Regions from separate parts of the Homo sapiens genome. Here region 1 is linked to region 2. A link means that fine-mapping ties the variant in region 2 to the expression of a gene that starts in the linked region. Tissue or cell type: whole blood. Region 2 holds a variant in brackets; the other region holds the start of a gene. All regions are shown on one strand. Distances are between the middles of the regions.

What was found. PIP is the estimated chance that this variant, and not a neighbour inherited with it, causes the effect.
Region 1: EPAS1 starts here. The variant in region 2 is fine-mapped to the expression of EPAS1 in whole blood (TOPMed, PIP above 0.99).

What each region holds. Positions count from the first base shown.
Region 1 is chr2:46,294,111-46,302,217 of GRCh38, forward strand. It overlaps EPAS1 (endothelial PAS domain protein 1), which reads left to right and starts at 3,297. Exons shown (of 16, transcript NM_001430.5): 1 at 3,297-3,827. The coding sequence starts at 3,802. RefSeq lists silencers at 2,751-3,330, 3,561-3,890.
Region 2 is chr2:46,384,772-46,392,878 of GRCh38, forward strand. It overlaps EPAS1 (endothelial PAS domain protein 1), which reads left to right. Exons shown (of 16, transcript NM_001430.5): 16 at 1-1,926. LINC01820 (long intergenic non-protein coding RNA 1820) reads right to left here. Exons shown (of 3, transcript NR_146999.1): 3 at 7,522-7,712. Among named protein-coding and RNA genes, the nearest start is that of LINC01820, 5.3 kb to the right of the region's middle. RefSeq lists an enhancer at 1-176. The variant C/T (reference allele first, on the strand shown) is at 4,070.

The DNA of each region.
Region 1 (8,107 bases), 91 kb before region 2:
ACACTTTATCTCTATCCCATCCTCCTGAGGGCACACCCTACAAAGAAAAGAGGAAGCAAGAGAATCAGATTTGTCCCTTGTCAAAACAAATAGGTGTTTCACTGGTGCCACAGCTTTTGTTCCCAAACCATCCAATACAGGGTTGGGGGGCAGGTAGGGAGATTTGCTGGGAGGTGGGCAGTTTGCTCCTATTTTAAGCAGCTTGGGAGCTTTGCCTACCGGTGTCCTCTGCTGCCCTCTGTGGCCACAACATCAGTGTCTCTAAAGACACCCCTCTGAATCCGGGGACCCAGCTCCCCATCCCCCACTCACTGCCCCAGCATCACCTTTCAAAGTTTTTCTCCTCTAGTTCTCCACAGGCTCTAAAAAGTAAAATTGGATGCACCCTAGCCACAGCCTGCATCTGGTTTACACTCTCAGCTCCTTCCTGCAAAGGTTATTGAGCTGAGTCCTGGAAGAAATCTCAGGCCACCCGGCTCTGCTCTAAGCAAGGCTGGGTGCAACCCTTTTGAGAGTTATTATAATGAGTTTTTGGTGTATCTCAGACACTGCCAAAATCCCGGACTTGGCAAGGTGCGGTGGCTTATGCGTATAATCCCAGCACTCTGGGAAGCCCAGGTGGGTGGATCACATGAGGCCAGGAGTTCCAGACCAGCCTGGCCAACATGGCAAAACTCCATCTCTACTAAAAATACAAAAATTAGCCGGGCATGGTGGTGCACATCTGTAGTCCTAGCTACTTGGGAGGCTGAGGCAGGGGAATAGCTTGAACCCGGGACGTGGAGGTTGCAGTGCGCCAAGATCGTGCCACTCCGCTCCAACCTGCGCAACAGAGTGAGATTGTCTAAAGAAAAAAAAAAAATCCCAGACTCAATGCCAGCTGTTTGTGTTAGCCTGGGGATCCTTCACTTATAGGGTGCAGTCTGGCCAAGAGGAAGGAGCTATATAACATGGTTGATGGAATTTCTAACATTTAAGCTCAGGGGTACATGTGCAGGATGTGCAGGTTTGTTACATAGGTAAATGTGTACCATGGTGGTCCACTGCACAGATCATCCCATCACCTAGGTATTAAGCCCAGCATCCGTTAGCTATTGTTCCTGATGCTCTCCCTCCTCCCACCCCTCACCCTCTGACACGCCCCAGTCTGTGCTGTTCCTCCCATGTGTCCATGTCTTCTTAGGTTGATGTGGTCTTGAGTGACCCCTCCTTGCCTTTCCTCTTTAAAAACAAGATCTAAAAGGCTATGTTCTCTATGGGTTGGAGGTGTTGCCTCGATCTGTCAAGCACAGTCCAGGACTCAGAGGCTGTTGTGGTGAACTACTGTAGGCACCTGGAAGCCACCAAGGTGCCCTTTTCCCGCACTCTAGTCCCAAGTGAGGGAAATAAGCCTATGGTTAAGGGAGAACTATCTACCAATTTGAACTCATTAAAATACATAAATGTGTCCACTAGAAATGGCTGGCTGGAGAAGCCCAGTACCAAATCACCCCGTTCCTGAAACCCACCAGCCCCATGAAATAGTTCGCTAGAGAGAGATTTGCAATCTTTGAATTCGTTGACTATCAACCTGTATAGGTGCTCCGTGCCCCGAGATCTGAGAAAATGACAAAATACGTCTACTTCCCGGCCGGGCACAGTGACTCACGCCTGTAATCCCAATACTTTGAGAGGCCAAGTTGGGCAGATCACTTGAGGTCAGGAGTTTGAGACCAGCCTGGCCAACATGGTAAAACTCCCGTCTCTACTAAAAATACAAAAATTAGCTGAGGGTGGTGGTGGGCGCCTTTAATTCCAGTTACTCCGGAGGCTGAGCCACAAGAATCGCGGGAAGCGGAGGTTGCAGTGAGTCGAGATGGGGCCACAGCACTCCAGCCTGGGCGACAGAGTGGGACTCAGTCTCAAAAAAAAAAAAAAAGTATTTCCCAATTCTTCGTCAGTTTTTGCCCTCTCCCCACTTCGCCTTCTCCAGGCTCCTGAAAAGTATCTCCCCCAACCCTTTCTGTGTACACGGGGAAAACACGTGTTCATTTTTATTATGGCGCTGAAACCTACCCTTCTCTTCAAATCGCTTCTGTAGATCGTTCTAGTATAAAATGTGGCAAGAGGCTAAAGGGAGAGATATAGACCAGTTCTTTGGCCCTCGCTTTCCAACTTCAAGTTACACCTGTGAAACTCATGGGTCCTTCCACAGCCTTCAAAAACTAAGGGCGTCCCCTGTCCTCTCCCCAGATGTCCCTTCCCCATCGCCGGTAGCGAGTGGGAGACAGCTCAGCGCGGGGCAGGGGAGCACTGGGCCCGGAGATGGAAGGCAGCGTCAAAAGCGCCGCTGGAAAATCCCTGAGCGCTAACCGTTGCCTGTGTGAGCCCTTAAATCTACAAATTTCCAACACCTGTAGCCTTTGGGTTTCCCAGGACTTCCATCGACCCTGGCGGCAGAGAGGGCAGGCCTGAGATGCAGTGACTTGAGGGCACATGGCCAACTCTTGTCACTCCAAGATCACACTGGGGAACCAGACTGACTTCTCCAATTCTGAACTCGCCCCGGCCTCGGGCGGCTCAAAGGGCCTCCTCTGCCGCATCCCCGCCAAAACCAAACCGCCTGGCACAAGCCGGTAAGCAACCACCCTGCTGGGAGAGGGAAGGAAGAGTAGGCGCAGCCCTAGATCAATTTCCTTGCACTGCTTCTCCCAGACGGTCAAGTCAGCTGCGTCCCACCGAAAAGGGCGCATCGCCCACGCCCGAAACGCAGCCGCTGGGGGCCGAGAAATTATCCCCACCTGGCCCGAGGGCCAGGGACGCAGGAGCGCAGCAGCGTGGAGGGGCTCCGCGCTGGCCCGGCGCTGCCCGCGGTCCTGCCCTCGTTCCAAGGGCACGGCGCCGGTACGAGGACACCGACGCTGTGGCGCAACTGCCGTCCCCCGCAGCAATCCCGGAGCCCGGCTCCCGGCCGCCCCTCGGCCCTGCGCAGGCTGCCTCTCCCCGACGCGGAGTCCCACCCCGCTACCCGCCGCCCAGACGACCTCATAAACAAGTCCTCGAAGTGCGGAGGCAGGAGGCGGGGCGCAGCGCGGGGGCAGGAGGCGGGCCAGGGTCAGGGCAGAGGCTGCGGCCGCGCGTCCCCATTGGCCGGGACGCAGTGAGCCGCCCGGAGCTCGGCGCGGGCGGGGCCTGCCGGCGCGTGCCCGCCCACACACCCGCGCCGGTGCCCGCCCCCCGCCCTCCGCGCCCGCCCCGTGCCCGCCCCAAGCCGGCCGACGGAGTTTTTAAAGTGGGCTGCCGGCCGCGGGAGCTTTACACTCGCGAGCGGACCGCCACACGGGTCCGGTGCCCGCTGCGCTTCCGCCCCAGCGCTCCTGAGGCGGCCGTACAATCCTCGGCAGTGTCCTGAGACTGTATGGTCAGCTCAGCCCGGCCTCCGACTCCTTCCGACTCCCAGCATTCGAGCCACTTTTTTTTTTCTTTGAAAACTCAGAAAAGTGACTCCTTTTCCAGGGAAAAAGGAACTTGGGTTCCCTTCTCTCCGTCCTCTTTTCGGGTCTGACAGCCTCCACCCACTCCTTCCCCGGACCCCGCCTCCGCGCGCAGGTTCCTCCCAGTCACCTTTCTCCACCCCCGCCCCCGCACCTAGCCCGCCGCGCGCCACCTTCCACCTGACTGCGCGGGGCGCTCGGGACCTGCGCGCACCTCGGACCTTCACCACCCGCCCGGGCCGCGGGGAGCGGACGAGGGCCACAGCCCCCCACCCGCCAGGGAGCCCAGGTGCTCGGCGTCTGAACGTCTCAAAGGGCCACAGCGACAATGACAGCTGACAAGGAGAAGAAAAGGTAAGCGGGCGTCCGGGCCGATCAGGGGGCCGGTCCGAGGCCAGGGCCGGGCTGCGCGGGGCAGGCGCGACCGAGAGTGGTTGGGAGAAGAGTGCTGAGAGGTCTTCGGAGCTCGAGGCTCGGTTTGGAGGGCTGTGAGGGGGAGAGCATGTGCCCGGTTTGGGGGCGCGGATCAGCAGCTTTGCAGTGGAGACTTCTGCGGCTCGGAGGAGTCGGGGATTTGCGCGCACGGCGAGGCCAGGAGGCCGAGGGAGATGGCCTGGAGGTCGGAGGTGCTTCCGCGGTGCCTTTGAAAATCTCCCAGCCGCCCCGCAGCAGATTACCGTGGCCACCGGCGCTTGGAAATGTTTGTGGGTGCATGTCCTCGACTTTCTCTGGTCTCTCATTTTGGGGCAGCATCCACGTCTCTATTTTTCTCTGGATTCGCGGAGTCCTTCCAAATGCGCTCCTGTGCCCGCGCCGCGGCCCAAGTGGGCAAAGGGGGGCGGGAGGCGGAGAGCGGCTCAGGGACACGATCCTACCGAGGAGCCAGGACCCTTCAGAGCGCCCCGCTGCCGGGCTCCAGACCCCACCGAAGGTTGGAGAACCCACTTCCTCGTGCCGCACCTTGACTCTGGGGAGAGTAGGTAGTGAGTGACCTGGATTGCCCTGCGGGGGCAGATGGTTCGGTGTGTAGGAAGCGGACGGCAACACTGGATGTCCCTGGCAGGTCCGGGTGTCTGTCTCCGAAGAGGACAGAGAAGGGCAGCCACGATCTGCCCGCCTGCCCTCGCGAGCCTCTCGGCACTGGGTGAGAGGCAACTCTGGCCATTTCTTGCTGCCCTCTCGCCCTCTCCCGGCCGCTCCCAGTCCAGCCGGGCCCGGCGCTACCCGAGCGAGGGTTCGAGCCCTCTGCGCGGCCGCGCAGAAGCAGGCAGGGCCTCAACTTCTGCAAATGTGTGCGGCTCGCCGCCTGTCCCCTTTCTCCTCCTGTCTCCACCCGTGCGGCCCCAGTGGCCTGGAGCTTCCAGCCCCGCGCTTGGCCGCGGCTTGGCGAGGCTATGCTGCGGGAAGCTGGAATCCAACGCGCGGCCGGCTGAACCGCCTGAGCCGCGGGAAACCAGCGGCGGAGCGGCGGTATAGAGGTGCGAGGATGAGGAGGACCGACTCGCTAAGGGAGGGAGGTGACTGGCCGGGAGGGCTCACTGCCGAGGTTGATTTGCTCTTGTTCCAACTTCCACTACGGGACTGGAGCCAGAAACCGTGTATCCTCCGGTCGAAAGCAGCGGTTCCCACCTCGGGGCACCGATAAGGATTTGATAAACGGGAGCGAATCGCGCCTGTCCTGGCTCGGCGCCCGGGCCCTTCACTGCGGGATCGCTAGGGGAGGGGATTGGGCCCTGCTCCCCTTTCCTGGCCGTAGTCCCCCCTTTCTCGTCACCGTCGCGCCCTCAGACCCAAGACAAGTGAGGGAGCCCTGAGACTGCAGCCGGCACATTCCCAGGGCCCTCGGAGCAGTCCTGGGGTTCCATGTCTTTTGAAGGCAGCAGAGCAAGGAAAAGACTCTTAAGATTCCAGTGCGTTTTGTAAAAACCAATCATAATGCTAATAATGACTGAACCATCGAAAAGCAAAGTTATAGACAGCGCCTGCAGACGCTTTCGGGTCCGGAGCCGGGGAGGGAACTTGTGTATTTTACAACTGCGATGCCTATCGGGAATGTGGCAATCGCCGAGGTGGGGCCTGACAGTAATCTTGACAAATGTGTGAAGTGTCAGCTCCTCCTGCGCTCCTTAGCGCCGGGTTTTGTGCAGTTTTGTACCGTATATACCGAGAAACTTGGGAGCAGGGGAAAAATGATTTCGACACACCCAGCTACAGTACCTGGTTCGTTAGCGGACTGTTGGAAAGAGAGAAGAAGCGGGAATGGGAGCGGGAAGAACGTTGCGTAATTAGACTCCCAATTATTGGCGAGAGCGGCCGCTTTAAGAACCACTGTGGGGACTGCCTGCGAAACGCCTTGGAGGCCGCTGTGTGAGCTGCGGCTCCGGGCTGGTGGCCACGCGAGGGTGTCCGCCCTCTTCGACCTGCCTGGATTTTTGTGCTGCAGAATGGCAGGGCAAACAGCGTGTCCTTCACCATCTAGAGCCCCTTAAGGGGTTGTCCAATTCCTATTGGGCTAATCAGTTTGAGACTCATTTACTTTTCGTGCCTGGGTCTGTTTGCTGGCTGCAGGCTTCTTTAGGGACCAAGATGTAATTAAAATATGTGAACCAATACATTGAAAGTTGGTGTTGTCATGTAAGTGACTGCTGTAGCTTTTCTGAGTGCCTCACAAGGGCGATGTGACAGTGAGGGGGCTCTCTGCTGATGATTCTGCCCACTAGTTCTTACATTTTGTGTTTCTTTGGTTTAGCAGAGCAGTTTCTTCCCCCAAATGCAATATGGGCAGAACATTTGGAATATTCGTTCTAACAATGGCCCGTCAAGAAGTGGGCAGATGATTTTGTCCCAGAATGTTCACACGTCGATAAATATGTTAATGTTTAATAATAAAGAGTTTGCTTTCTAAATGTTAGTTGGCTGGGTGTCCTTGATAGTACCAGTTTTGGTGGTAGTGGGCATTTGCGGTGACATCACAGATGTCAGAAACTGAAGCCTGGTGGGTGGGGGTACTGCACTTTCACTCACCTTTTTGTGCACGCATCTATCAGGAATGCCTGAGTCCTTTCACTGGGAAAAAAATGTGGAAATTCTGGGATTCACGGGGTTTGAGGAGTGGTTCAGGCAAATGTAAATGAGATCCTTGGATAATCAGGGATCAAAGTCCAGTCCCAAAGCCAGACCTAGGTCCAGACACCTTCCCAGAGTGCTTATACAGTAGTGCTCAGTACAGGGCTAGCGTGGAAGGGGAATTGGAGACACCTGGATCTCCAATCTCCCCCTCCTTCTGACAGCTGGACTTAGTTGTTCCTCTTCTAAAATCAAATCAAACTCCATCATTATTCCAACTCTGAAGGGAAAAAATATTGCTGGACAGTTTCTCTCAATTTAAACATATATTTTAAATAAATATTCCCTCCACACTTGATATGTTTCCATTGTATTACCAGCAGCGCAGGATGATACAGAATTGATGTAACACATTGTTGGCTTGAGTATTTAAGTTTTAATTCATACAGTTTTCATGAAGTTCAAAAGAATGCCATCATTTCAAGTTTTTTTCAGTGGTGCTTATAGGGAGCCTAGAATTATTTTATAAGAGACCATGGAAATCATCTAGTCAGACTTTTCTCTTTCTGGATAAGGAAACTGATGCCGAGAGAGGTTAAAAGACTTCTCCGGTCACAAGGAAAATTAGTGCTGATAAGAGTCAGGGCTGGTCGCGGTGGCTCATGCCTGTAATCCCAGCACTTTGGGAGGCTGAGGCTGCGGATCACCTGAGGTCAGGAGTTCAAGACCAGCCTGGTCAACATGGTGAAACCCCGTCTCTATTAAAAACACAAAAAAATTAGCCGGGCGTGGTGGTGGGTGCCTGTAATCCCAGCTATTCTGGAGGCTGAGGCAGGAGAATTGCTTGAACCCGGGAGGTAGAGGCTGCAGTGAGCGGAGATAGCGCTGCTGCACTCCAGCCTGGGCAAGAGTGAAATTCCGTCTCAAAGAAAAAAAAAAAAAAAAAAGTCAGAACCCTGGTTTATTACTTTCAATTAAGTATGTATTTTCCTATTGTTCACAGGAGAGTACCCCAGCCCTGAAATATCTCTAGATAGTGAGGATGATTTCCGAAGGAGTGCCTTCCCCATCACAACTCTCAAACCGCTGAACCTTATAGAAAGGAGATTTGCTTTTCTGGATAATTATCAACACCTTTAGGCTGCAGTAGAAGTGATGATTCTGTTTGCTTTTTGAAAAAAAAAAAAAAAGGAAGCAGAGTTGAATTGATGCTGTTCCCAGTGTCTGTAAACTTTGAGAAGTATGAATTCATTGTTTTAGTTAGAAAAAAATCTACTTATATAGGTAGACCTCATTAAACAAAACCAATGCAAGGACCGCTCCTCAGTGGAGCAGATTGCTTTTTGAGGTAGAGAACATTCAAGCAGCTGCTAGATTGATTTTTGTACTGGGTTAGTTGGCATTTTCACTAGGAGTGAAAACTGTGAGACTAAACAGTTTAATTTACTTAGAATGTCCCTCTTTCTCTCTGTGTGTGTGTGTGTGTGTGTGTGTGTGTGTGCCCGTGCGTCGGGGGGGGGGGCAGTGGTGATTCTCAACTTTCTAGGAATTTATTAAGTAAAGTGTTT
Region 2 (8,107 bases):
TGGACTTACCTGGCAGACTTGCCCAGGTCACCAAGCAGTGGCCTTTTTCTGAGATGCTCACTTTATTATCCCTATTTTTAAAGTACACAATTGTTTTACCTGTTCTGAAATGTTCTTAAATTTTGTAGGATTTTTTTCCTCCCCACCTTCAATGACTTCTAATTTATATTATCCATAGGTTTCTCTCCCTCCTTCTCCTTCTCACACACAACTGTCCATACTAACAAGTTTGGTGCATGTCTGTTCTTCTGTAGGGAGAAGCTTTAGCTTCATTTTACTAAAAAGATTCCTCGTTATTGTTGTTGCCAAAGAGAAACAAAAATGATTTTGCTTTCCAAGCTTGGTTTGTGGCGTCTCCCTCGCAGAGCCCTTCTCGTTTCTTTTTTAAACTAATCACCATATTGTAAATTTCAGGGTTTTTTTTTTTTTGTTTAAGCTGACTCTTTGCTCTAATTTTGGAAAAAAAGAAATGTGAAGGGTCAACTCCAACGTATGTGGTTATCTGTGAAAGTTGCACAGCGTGGCTTTTCCTAAACTGGTGTTTTTCCCCCGCATTTGGTGGATTTTTTATTATTATTCAAAAACATAACTGAGTTTTTTAAAAGAGGAGAAAATTTATATCTGGGTTAAGTGTTTATCATATATATGGGTACTTTGTAATATCTAAAAACTTAGAAACGGAAATGGAATCCTGCTCACAAAATCACTTTAAGATCTTTTCGAAGCTGTTAATTTTTCTTAGTGTTGTGGACACTGCAGACTTGTCCAGTGCTCCCACGGCCTGTACGGACACTGTGGAAGGCCTCCCTCTGTCGGCTTTTTGCCATCTGTGATATGCCATAGGTGTGACAATCCGAGCAGTGGAGTCATTCAGCGGGAGCACTGCGCGCTATCCCCTCACATTCTCTATGTACTATGTATGTATGTATTATTATTATTGCTGCCAAGAGGGTCTGATGGCACGTTGTGGGGTCGGGGGGTGGGGCGGGGAAGTGCTCTAACTTTTCTTAAGGTTTTGTTGCTAGCCCTTCAAGTGCACTGAGCTATGTGACTCGGATGGTCTTTCACACGGCACATTTGGACATTTCCAGAACTACCATGAGATGGTTTAGACGGGAATTCATGCAAATGAGGGGTCAAAAATGGTATAGTGACCCCGTCCACGTCCTCCAAGCTCACGACCTTGGAGCCCCGTGGAGCTGGACTGAGGAGGAGGCTGCACAGCGGGAGAGCAGCTGGTCCAGACCAGCCCTGCAGCCCCCACTCAGCCGGCAGCCAGATGGCCCCGCAAGGCCTCCAGGGATGGCCCCTAGCCACAGGCCCTGGCTGAGGTCTCTGGGTCGGTCAGTGACATGTAGGTAGGAAGCACTGAAAATAGTGTTCCCAGAGCACTTTGCAACTCCCTGGGTAAGAGGGACGACACCTCTGGTTTTTCAATACCAATTACATGGAACTTTTCTGTAATGGGTACAATGAAGAAGTTTCTAAAAACACACACAAAGCACATTGGGCCAACTATTTAGTAAGCCCGGATAGACTTATTGCCAAAAACAAAAAATAGCTTTCAAAAGAAATTTAAGTTCTATGAGAAATTCCTTAGTCATGGTGTTGCGTAAATCATATTTTAGCTGCACGGCATTACCCCACACAGGGTGGCAGAACTTGAAGGGTTACTGACGTGTAAATGCTGGTATTTGATTTCCTGTGTGTGTTGCCCTGGCATTAAGGGCATTTTACCCTTGCAGTTTTACTAAAACACTGAAAAATATTCCAAGCTTCATATTAACCCTACCTGTCAACGTAACGATTTCATGAACGTTATTATATTGTCGAATTCCTACTGACAACATTATAACTGTATGGGAGCTTAACTTTATAAGGAAATGTATTTTGACACTGGTATCTTATTAAAGTATTCTGATCCTACCACTGCTGGTGGCTCTTATTTCCTGTGGATTTATCATGGGCTATGCCAATGTAAAGTGAAGTATTAAGTCGTTCATATAAATTGAACATTAGCACAGACCTTTATGAGACTACTGAAGTGAGCTGATAAGACTGGTGAAGGAAAGACTGTGTTAAATACTTGGTAGTTGCCTAAGTCTGAAAATTCATATTGTATCTTCCATATTTCTGCAAGTATTTTTCTATCTATCTATCTATGTGCCTCGGGGCCATTTTTTGTATCCTATGGGGAACCCAAGGAAAGAAGTCATGGTCTCTGCTTTCAGAAAATTACATGAAGTCGTTTGAGAGCCACACTGTTCTGTATATTCACATAGTGCACTTTGGGATGGAGGTCCCGAAGGGAAAGGGGCAGCCTGGGCATTAGGACTTCAATTTGGAGGCGGCTGGGCTGGAGTAGGGTCTTCCCAGGTAGACTGTGATTGGGAAGAGCAGAGATCCCCTCGGCCAGAGACAGAGCACAGTGAAAGCCCAGAACTGGACATGAGCATGATATGTTCCCCAATTCAAATTTCACTTTTCCAGATCATGACCTGCTTGTGAGCAGACCTTTGTCTCCATGGAGAGATGGGGGCAAGGGGAGAGACCGTGCAGCAGCCTGCGCTCTCACTGTCTACCCTAGAACCAGCCATTCCAGCAGCATGTACTTTGCCTAAGCATTTGGTCCATATAGTATGGTCTCACATGTTTGTTAGCTTGTTAGCTCACTGGATCCTAGGTCTAAGCAATGCCATGGGCACCCATTCTACAGCTGAAACTGAGGATCTTATGACTTAAGCAAGTCACAGCTTGTTGATGGGAGAAATGAAACTGAAACCCCTTCCTGGCCAGTGCGTCTCTCCTCTTACACCTTAGACTGATGGCTGGGAGGCTGATTTTATGACAGGACCCTGTTCTCATTTCTAAATAGAAAATTCATGTCTTTATTACTTTAGCCTTTAGACCTCCTTCTGGTTCTTTTGCTTACTCTTCTCTTCCAAATCTTGGGGCCTGGACCTTCAGATTGGAGTTTCTGGGCTCTGCCAGGTTCCTACCCACCTTTGCCTGCCATCTTGGACTTCCTGAAAACATCACCTGTTCTTTTCTGAAGCTTTTCTGTGACTGACACATCTCAGCCCATCCTTCAGGAGCAGAGTTGCCTCTAAGCACTGGCTAATTCAGGATCCAGGCCTGGAAAGGTGCTATCCATCCCAGCCCCCTAACAACTGCAGGGTCCCATGGGGTCCACAGTGCTGTCCTTGGGCCATGATTATACCCTCCTGCTCCTGGGGGTGCTGGGCAGCTCAAAGCTCCTCTTGCTTCCAAGTCCAGCGAGCAAGCCAGAGCAAGCCAGGAACACAACGAAGCCATTGTTCCTGATGGGTCAGAGGAGCTCAGCCTCCAAGCACAAGACACAAGACCCACACAAGCCATCACTGCTTCATGTTTTGCCTCAAGCAATCCAGTGAAGACTGACTTAAATGCTCCCGATTTTGTATTTTCAAAATGTAGGTGACTCAGGAGTAGGTACATGCCTGTGTGACCAGATGTGCAAGGACCAAGGTAGGGGCCCGAGCAGAATCAGCAATCGTTCAGCCATTGGGGGTCCTCCTGATGCTAGATATATTCCCCTCTAGGCAAGCAAACCCTGGTGGGCTGTGACAACATCTCAGCACTTGTCTTGGTTGGCTGGCTTATGGATGAGGAATCTCTCTGGGAGAGGGACTCTGACCCAAGGCTGGAACCTCAGAAGGCCCTACCTAGTAGAGAAGGGCCAACCCTGCCCCTTCTGATCATGCAGGGCAAAACTGATCCCATTCCGCAGCATGGGCTTTGATGCCCATGTTCAGATGGGGGTGGAGAGTGAATGAACTGTTTTTTTTCTGGAGATCACGGAAATGCAGATTCATTTCTTTTACAACATGCAAGATTCAACCACTTAACATCCTTCCTCTCCTGGATCCCGCACAAAAGAGACTGCTTTTTTGTGAAAAAGAAACTTTTACCAGGAGGCCTGCAGAAGAACAGTCAGGTTAACCCGGCTCTTCCTTCCCTGAGGTAGTGGCCCTGGGTAAGACAGCACAGGATGTTATCTCAGATGCTGAGAGGGGCTGAGAAACAATGT[C/T]GCCCAACCCCATCACTTCTTTTTTTCAACCTCCTCATTTTAGAGATGAGGAAACTGATGCCCAGGAAAACAAAGCGACTTGCCTACAGTCACACAGGGAGTTAGTGGCAGGGTGGGGGCCAGAGCCCAGGCCAGCATCATGGGAACTGGGGCTGAACTCACGTAAGTGAAAGGGCTGTGTTCTCTGCCCCAGAGGTCACCGCTCACTGTCTCAGCCAGCACTGGGCCTCCCACATGGCCCTTCCCAAATCTTCCTTCCAGCCTCCTGCTCCTCACTTCCCTCCGGCACTCTCAGTTCTTCCAAAAATGATCCTGTCACCCCCATTTCTTCCAAACATTCCTCTGAGCTCAGCGACCCCTGTGGGAACTGCTTGGCCTCTCTGTGACCTCAAATGAAGTCTAAATCAATTCTTTCACTACTAGACTGAACTTTTCTTGGTCCCCCAGGACCCAGGAGAAAAGGATTTTGAAGTACTTCCCCAGCCCCACCTAATACACAGTGTTTAAAAATGATACTTCTTCGGCAATCATGATCCTTCCTTCTAGAAGCTTCCCAGCTAGTAGGGGAACCAAACAAAGCCCGCCTGGATGACTGAGACCCTGTCTGAGATGGTGTGGGATGATGGAGGCCCATGGCCCAGTTTTCCCAGCCAGTCCAAGCATTAGATCACGTGCTTCCGCGTCCCCGCGGGTGCAGCTGTACTTGGGCCAAGGGTCCCATCGCGGGTTCAGAAAGCATGATAACTATTGATGCAAATGAGCCCTTGGTTGTTTTAGGGTGGACTTCAACTCCTGCAAATGTCCAGAGGAGGCCAGCAGAGATCAGCCTGGGTCTTAGGAGTGAAGAATCTCCCACCAGAGCTGGGATGGAAGAGGATTAGACAGGCAGCGGGAAAAGAGGTCATTCCAGGAGAAGTGGACCAGGGAGACAAAGGCCTGAGGCCAGAATGAGCAATACATGCAAGAGGCCCTGGGGGGCAGGCAGGACGGGAGCTGGGAAGGAGGGGGCGGCCGGGCAGCCTGGCAACTCACAACACAGACCTAGAGTCAGACGGACCTAGGTTCAAATCCCAGCCCTGCTGCTTCCTGCTGTGTAACCTCAAGGAAGCCCCTTAAACATCTGATAGCCTAAGTCTGCTGTTCTGTAGAATGGTGGTGACAGCAGTCCCTACCTCATAGGGTTTAAAGCTGGAGATACAAATTTGGGTATGTGCAGTAGGTAAATTGTACTTAACTCCATGAGCTGGGATGAAATATGCCTCTGAGATAGAAGTGCAAAGAACAGAGGTCGGGAGACAGAACCTAGGCCACTGGTAGAAGCCAGACTGAGCAGGAGCACCCAAGGAGCAGAAAGAAATCCAGGGGTATAGTATCTCAAAAGCCAAGTGATAAGGGTGCTGCGGGAAGTAGGGCATAGTGAACTGCATTACACACACACTAGACTGAAAGGTAAGGGAAGGGGAAAAAAATTGACTCGGATTTGCCAACATGGAGCTCACCATCAACCTTAACAAGAGCAGGTTTGGTGGGGAGCTAAGGACAGCAGATTGGAGTAGACTGAGGAATGAGCTGGCTGGAGTGGGGAAACAGAGACCGTAGCAATATACAACTCGTTTGGGAAGGTTCCCTGTGCAGGAAAGCAGGGAAATGGAGTGGAGCAAGAGGATGACATGGGTCAGGGGAGTGTGTGGGAGTGTATATGTGTGTGTGTGTGTATGTGTGTGTGTGTGTGGTTTCATATTTAATCGACTTTTATCTTAGAATAGTTTTAGGTTTACAGAAAGGCTGTGAGACCATTATAAGAGTTCCCTGCACTCAGTTTCCTCTATTATTTTATTTTATTTTTAGAATAGAGACGGGGTTTCCCTATGTTGCCCAGGCTGGTCTCAAACTCGTGGGCTCAAGTGATCCTCCTGCCTCGGCCTCCCAAAGCGGTAGGAATATAGACGTGAGCCACCGTGCCTGGCCTCCTCTATTGTTAACATTACTATGGTACATAAGTCACAATTAATGAACCAGTATTGGTACCTTATTATCTAAAGCCTGTACTTTATTCCAGTTTTTAGTGTTACTTAATATCTTTCTTTTTCTGTTCTAAGGTCCTATTCAGGATACCACATTACATTTACTTGTCACGTCTCCTTAGGCTTCTCTTAGGTTTTCCCCACTTTTGACGGCCTTGACAATTCTGAGGAGTGCTAGTTAAGTATTTTGTAGAACATCCTTCCATTTGGATTTGTCTGGTGTTTTTCTGGTTGGACAGAGGTTGTGGGTTTTGGAAAGGAAGACCAAAGAGGTACAGTGCCATTATCACCTCCTCACATCACAGCAAGGGTACATTCCGCCGTCATGACTCGTTGCCTTGATCACCTGGCTGAGGTGTTTTGTCAGGTCTCTCCACTGTAAAGTTACTGGTTTTGGGGAGCCAGGAGGGACATCATTTTTGAAGATGAGCTACATTAGGAAACGTATATACGGTGATGGCAGAAAGTTGATGAAGACAGGAAAGGGGGGGATAATTGCAGAAGTAAAATGATTGAAAAGGTGGGATGGGCACGGATGGAATCCACTGCACCATCGAGGGGCTGGCTTCAGACAGAAGCATGGACAGTTCATCGTTTTAAAAGGGGGAAGGCAGAGAAGAGAGTAAAGCCTTAGTCCGTCAGGTGGAATTGGTGGTGGGAGGATAATAAGCAATCTCTAGTCTGATCGCTATTTCCCCAGTGATATATGAGGCTGTCAGAGGTTTGAAGAGATACAAGTATGAAATAGTCACTAGAAGGTCAGACTGATCGATGATCAGTATCAGAAGCTCAGGTGAGATTTATGGTCATGAACTGGCCCATGGCACAATTGTGTTTTCTTCTAGCCACACTGTTCTACTCTAATGGAGACTGAATGGGTGGGTAGTTGAGTTTACCAGGTTGTGGTTCAGCCAGGACGGTATGTTTAAGGGAGTGAGGAAAGTTTCCAGTAGGATGACTATTACGATGGATCACTAAGTTGTGTGAGAAGGAAAGAAAAAATGAATAGGTTCATGATCAATGAAAAAAATGGCAGGCTCAGTGAATTGGAGGTCTTAGTGAGGTCACAGTGGTCAGTGTGATATGTTAGAGAAAGGAACCATGTGGATGGGGCACAGTTGTCAGAGGAGAGGAAACTTACAGTTGAGATCTCACATACATAGGACCCAGCAATGACCACTTCTAGGTATTTTAAAGAAGTCAAGATTTTAAGTCCACACAAAATCTGCACACAAATGTTCATCCTCACCAAGAACTGAAAACAACCCAAATGTCCTTCGACAGGGGTAGATTTTTAAAAAACTGTAATATATCTACACAATGGACTACTACTCAGCAATAAAAGTTAACATGCTTGATTCAAACAACAGCATGGATGAATCTCAAAGGTATTATTCTTTTGAACAAAAGAGGCCAGTACCAAAAGGGCACATTCTATATAATTCCATTTATATGGCATTCTAGAAAAGGCAAAAATACAGGAACAGAGAACAGCTCATTGCTTGCCAGAAGGCAGGGGTGAGGAGAGATGAGGGCGTTCTCTGGAGTATTGGAACTGTTGCTTGTACTGTCTGTGGTGGTGGCTGTGAGAATCCACGCGTGTCTAAGAAACCATAGACCTGTACATCAGAAAAAGAATTTTACATATGTAAACTTAAGACATTTTTTAAATAAAAGCAAATTTTCAGATCTCAGAGGTGGCTGAAATCAAAGAAGGCAAGGGTCTGATGAAGTTGGGGAGCCAGGATGTTGTCAGAGTGGTCCAGGTGGGTGTCAGCGTCCGTGAAAGTAAAGGTGGATGGAGAGAGGAGCTGGGGACTGAAGTCACTGGGGGAAGAAAAAAAGAGTCTGAGGACTGAGAGGGAGAAATGAGTAACCCCTCTACGTCCAGGCCCTGCCTGACACCTGCCTGTAGGCGACAGAAACCAGCCTCAACCTGAGTGGCTGCAAGGAGCAGGGAGCTTGAGGACAGCCAGGCTTCAGTGAAAGAAGGTAAAGGCCCCTTCAGAGGAGG